Regions from separate parts of the Homo sapiens genome. Here region 2 is linked to region 1. The links come from fine-mapping of genetic effects on gene expression. A gene starts in region 1. The other region holds a variant in brackets. All regions are shown on one strand. Distances are between the middles of the regions. Region 1 holds the start of DCAF4 (DDB1 and CUL4 associated factor 4). Region 2 overlaps DPF3 (double PHD fingers 3).

What was found. PIP is the estimated chance that this variant, and not a neighbour inherited with it, causes the effect.
Region 2: its variant is fine-mapped to the expression of DCAF4 in tibial artery (GTEx, PIP above 0.99).

Annotation. Positions count from the first base shown.
Region 1 is chr14:72,924,938-72,927,689 of GRCh38, reverse strand. DCAF4 (DDB1 and CUL4 associated factor 4) reads right to left here and starts at 1,226. Exons shown (of 14, transcript NM_015604.4): 1 at 1,147-1,226. RefSeq lists enhancers at 1-516, 1,188-1,457, 1,748-1,847, 2,248-2,752 and a silencer at 958-1,017.
Region 2 is chr14:72,812,027-72,815,031 of GRCh38, reverse strand. All of the region lies in intron 1 of DPF3 (double PHD fingers 3), which reads left to right. Among named protein-coding and RNA genes, the nearest start is that of DPF3, 81 kb to the left of the region's middle. The variant G/A (reference allele first, on the strand shown) is at 1,322.

The sequences.
Region 1 (2,752 bases):
AGGACCCCCAGGCCTGGTTACCCACAGAACACCACCTCAGGCCGGGCGCGGTGGCTCACGCCTGTAATCCCAGCACTTTGGGAGGCCGAGGCGGGCGGATCACGAGGTCAGGAGATCGAGACCATCCTGGCTAACACGGTGAAACCCCGTCTCTACTAAAAATACAAAAAATTAGCCGGGCGAGGTGGTGGTCGCCTGTAGCCCCAGCTACGCGGGAAGCTGAGGCAGGAGAATGGCGTGAACCCCGGGGGCGGAGGCTGCAGTGAGTCGAGATCGTGCCACTGCACTCCAGCCTGGGCGACAGCGAGACTCCGCCTCAAAAAAAAAAAAAAAAAAAAAAAAAAAAGAACACCACCGCGACTCTAATTTCCATCGTTATTTAAAATCAGAGTTTGGGACTTTGGAATTGTTTCCTCTAGGAAGCCGTCCCCTCAGTTTTCTTTGCTTCTGGCTGCGCTGCTGGAGTCACAAGACAATGCCTGTAGAACACCATGGTGAAAGGCGTCATGGTTTCTGAAGCCCCCGGGGAGCCCACGAGGCGTGGCTTTCTCGCTAACTCACAACTCAGAGTGGAGGCGAGGGCCAAACCCAGGCCCCATCACTTGCTAGTTGTGCGCTACCCCGACGGACAACCAAACTGCACCCCTTTCTGCGTCTGACAAGGACATCATAGCGCTGGCAAATGTTAGCGCCTGTGAAGCCGGCAGCACAGAGCCGGCCACTTCGTAAGCTTCAACCACACCTAACCTGTTATGCTGACCTGAACATTCACAGGGGACACCGCCCCAAGGCCCGCAGCCCAGCCCCCGCCAGGTGTCGGGTGGGGCCTTCAGCAGCAGGTCTCAGAGAAGCGCTTAGAGAAACGCCCTCAGCGGCGACACTCGGGGTGCCCTCCCTGCGTGTTTACGGTTGCAGCACTGATCCGGCCGGAGGGCCCCACGCGCCCCAGAACGGGCGGAGCGCGCCGGCCCAGCTGCCACCTAGGCCCGGTGGCGCCGGCGTTCCACGTGCTCACTCCTCCCCGCCCCTCCCCGCCCCTTTCCCTGGCCTTCCTCGCCGCGCCTGTCTCCCACCCCGAGCTCTGCAGCGGGAGCGCGGCAGCCCTCGAATCGATGCCAGTAGGCACCCCAGGCAGCACAGTCTTACCTGTTCAGCGTGTCCCTTCCGGATTCCCCTCCGGCTCAGCTCTGCAGGAGTTGGAGCGAAGCGTGCAAGGACCCGGAAAGACCAAGGTGTAGCGTCAGCCAGTTAGGTGGATGCGTTTTGGTGTTGTAGCAGCCGATAGGGCTATAGCGGCCGTTCTTTCCTTCTCACTGGACGCGGCTTCTGTCTGTCGACGTCAATAGGGACGATCTCATGAAGAAGGCGGGGAGTGGGGCTTCGGCTCCTCCCAGGCCTGGCCTGTCTGGGGCGGATGCACGTGGAGGCTGGTCATGGAGCGCTTGGGGGTGGGGCCAGGCGCACGCGGGGGCGGGGCCGGGGGCTGCTCCCGGAGCAGCGGAACTGTCTGGAGACCCTTTCGTGAGAGACCGTGTCTTCCTCCCTCCGCAGGGTGATGCGGCCCTGGAGAAGTCCTCTCGCTGTAGTGGAAAGAGCGAAGGAGTCTGTGAGGCGAGGGACAGAAGTAACGTGATGTTACGACTGGCGGCGAAGTCTTCGGCAGTGGCCTCAGGCGGCCGAGGCCGCTGCCCTGGGTCTGCGTTCAGGGTGTAGCGTAGCGAGCCCTGACCGTGAAACCGGGGGGCCTCCGTGTTGGCTCCAGTACTGCTGCTTGCTGTGGGACCTAGGGCGAGTCTCTTCCCTTCTCTGTGCCTTGATTTCTTCTGTTGAGAGAAGGAATCGGATCTATCATTCTCATGTCCTCTCCAGCTTAGAGTTTGTTCAGACCACCAATATTTCTAGAATGACCTATGTGTGCTGTGCCTGTCCCAGGTATCAGCTGACGGTTATGAGATCTTATGAAAGGAAAACGGAAGCCTCTGATGGGCTTGTGTCCCGAAGAGACAGTTTGTGAGGACAGCTGGATTCACAGAGGCTAGGCTTGTTGGGGTCCAGCAGTAGGCCTGGTGTGTCATGCGGCTCCGTAACACAGGCCCCTGCCCGCGGCTTGGACCCGTTAGAAAGCAGGCGGTGGGGTTCACCCATTGCACGCCGTGCGAAGGCATTTCAGCTCTTAACCAGGAAGCTAGGATTTCAGGCTAAACTCCTGGCTCTCAGGAGTTTATAGATAAATGCAGTATGTGGAGCGGGGCCGGGTGATGAGGGAAATGAGAGAAGTGGGCATAGTCAGAATAAAGAACCGCTTCATGAAGCTTGAGCGGCCTTGAAGAGAAGGCAGAGAAAAATTCTAGCTGAACAAACAACGTGACTGGAGGCCGGTTCAAGCCGGCTGGATGGGAGGGGAGTCTTGGAAGGAAAACTCAGCAGGGTGGGTTGGGGCTTGGTGACGCAGCAATTGCCAGGGAAAGAGTAGTCAGGCCGGGTGCAGTGGCTCACGCCTGAAATCCCAGCACATTGGGAGGTTGAGGCGGGTGGATCACTTGAGGCTAGGAGTTCCAGACCAGCCTGGCCAACATGGCGAAACCCCCAACTCTACTAAAAATACAAAAAATTAGCCGGGCGTGGTGGCGGGCGCCTGTAATCCCAGCTACTCAGGAGGCTGAGGCAGGAGAATTGCTTGAACCCGGGAGGCGGGGGTTGCAGTGAGCCGAGATAGCGCCATTGCACTCCAGCCTGGGTGACAGAGTGAGAC
Region 2 (3,005 bases), 110 kb after region 1:
ATATTAGTGCCTTTCAAAGAGTAGACATTTAAAATGTTGGTGAAGTCCAATGTATCAATTTTTTTCCTTTACGACTCATGCATTTTATGTCCTATTTAAGAAAATTTTTGCTTAACCCAAGGTTAGAAAAAGTTTCTTCCAAGTTTTCTTTCTGAAGTTTGAAAGTTTTAGTCTTCCATTTAGCTCTACGATCCATGTCGAGTTAATTTTTTTTTTTTTTTGGAGACGGAGTCTCGCTCTGTCGCCTAGGCTGGAGTGCAGTGGCGCGATCTCGGCTCACTGCAACATCTGCCTTCCCGGTTAAGCAGTTCTCCTCAGCCTCCCAAGTAGCTGGGCTTACAGGCACCTGCCATCATGACCAGCTAATTTTTATATTTTTAGTAGAGACGGGGTTTCACCTTGTTGGCCAGGCTGGTCTCAAACTCCTGGTCTCAAGAGATCCGTCTGCTTCAGCCTCCCAAAGTGCTGGGATTACAGGTGTCAGCAACCACACCCCGCTCAAGTTAATTTTTATCTAGGGTATGAGGTAAGAATTAAAATATTGAAAAAGTTCTTTTTGGTAATGTCTTTAACTGGTTTTGGTATCAGGGTAATTCTGGCCTCATCAAATGTGTTAGCATTGTGCCAGGCACTGTAGAGAATATAAAAGTCAGATCTAATCCCTGCTGGACTCTCTCTCTCGCTCTCACACACATCCCCCAAGTATGATGAAGGCAGAGTTTGGTGAGCATAGAAGAGAAGTGCATATGAACTGCTATGGGCTTTCAAAGAAGGGTGAAGGCCTGGGAAGCCTCAGAATCATCTTCATGAAGGAGGGACACTCAGGAAGGGCCTTAGGAGGGCTGCACCATTGCCTCACTCTGGGGGCACCATTCAAATGACAGTCAGTTGAGTGATCCAGGGCCACGTCGCCTGCAACATGGAGGGTACCCGTCTGGAGTTTTTAAAAAAAGTGGCCCTGCTAAACAAGAAAAGGTCTACTAGCTGAGAGACTATCAGCCGGTAGAGATGGGGAAAGGTGGGTGGGGTGGACAAGAAACCATGTACTGGGCGAGAGAGAATTCTATTAAAGTATGCCTTTGCCTCGCCAACCTCTGAATTAAACTCCCATTGTTCTGCATCCTTCCCACACTGATTATGGTGCCGGAGGGCCCTGGAGAGGAAGGTGGGAAGGAGGGGGACCAGCCGTCATGGAGCCCCTCATCTCTGTGCTCGAGCCCCAGCATCCATCATCTCATTTAGTCCTCTCACCAACTCTGTAAGAGCAGCTTCATTATTTGCATTTTTGCAGATTAAAAAATGAGATTCATAAAGGTTAAGT[G/A]CCCTGCCTGGGGTCAGCCGCTAGTGAGCAGGGGAGCCTAGTTGCAGTCCAGCCCCCTGGCTGCCTTTGGCCCCTGCAACACTATCTCTCACTGCTCTGACAAAATGTCATTTCTGAGGAAGGCAGGCACACAGACCCAAAAGGAATGGGTGCCGGGGGGGAGGCCAGGATGAGATATTTGTGAGTGGGTTTGTTCTGATGTAGCAAAAACTCTCTCGTTGCTGTGGGCTGGGAAGTGGCTGACTGGCTGCGTGGTCAGAGTTTGCAAAGCTTTTGCAGATCCTTTTGCTAGAGGGGCTTTAAAAGCTGCAAGCGCTCAGCAGTTCCTATCAGCTGGGATTTTTTTCCTCCAGATTGAATCCTGTCAGGGTTTTACTGGCTCATCTGTTCCCAGAATGACACCATGTCCCCTCACCTGAGCAGCACGGCCTTGCCACCCACGGTACTCCCTGCTACCAGACGGCTCCCGGAAGGAATTCTTCACCAGCCCTATTTTTTGTCCCCTGAACCCCTCTCCTGACTCTCTCAAAACCCTCTGGTTTCTCCCAGAATTTGGAGCCAAGCCCATCAGGGACAAAGGAATGCTGGGACCTTGTTTGGATCTCAGATTTGGTGGTTTGCTCCCCTTCCTGGTGTCATGGTTTGAAGCATTTTCGAAGGAGCCCCCGAAAAGCAAGGACAGTGTGGAGAGGCTGATGCCCAGAGGCGATGCGGTGTGTCTGGGAAACCAGAGGGGACCCTGCCTGCAAGTTCCCATTGCCCCCAACCCCATTCCTATCCCTATGAGCCCCTGGCCCTTCTTCGCCAGTGCCTGTATCCTCAGAGCCCTCTCAGGGAGCCTCACCCGCCAGCCTCTGGGCGTTTGGCTTCCCGTCTTTTGTTTGGTCACCATGGGCCCTGCCACTGCCAACTCAGGCAAACAGAGCTTGGGCCAGCCCTGGGCTGCCCAGCCTCCCGGACGCATTGCACACTGCTCTGTGTCAGCAGAAAAAGTGTACATGACAAGTGGCATACTAGAGCGCCCTCTCCCCCCAGGCCTAGCTACAAAGCCTCCATGCCCTGCTGAGCCCTGCCCACCGGGCCCAGCGTACTCTCCGTACTCTCCGCTCCGCCAGCAGTGTTTCAGGAATCCTGAGGTGCAGCTCAGGTGGCTCTCGGTGACGTCATGGGAAGTGTTCTGGGTCGGTTCCCTTTGCCTCCCTGCCTCCACCTCCTTCCCAGACTTGCCGAGGATGTTGCCTCCAAGCCCCTCCCAGCTCCCAAAATACCAACCCTGCCTCCTGGCCCTGCCAGAAAACGCTTAGCACATTAGCGGGTTTAGCTGCCACAGTGGCAGTCAGTTGGGAGGCTGCAGAGGCACATAGATTTCATTCTGGAATTCTTTCCAGCTCCTCGCTATTTTGACAACACTGGGCAATGCTGTTACCAGGAACCTGCCCTGCCTGTGGGATGGGAGAGGCTGGGGGCCGGGGGTGGGGATGGGAAAAAGGTAAGCGGGGCTGGTGGGAGCAGCCTCAGGGTAAGGGACTATGAGAGAAGGTGGGGGACTACACTGGTATCTCATGGTGCTGCAGCCACTTTGGTCTTTAACTTGGTCTTTAACATGGCTGGCCTCCCTCCTTGCCTCCTGGAGCTCACTTGGGGCAGATCTTAGATACAAGAGACCTCAGTGCAGGGGCTTCTG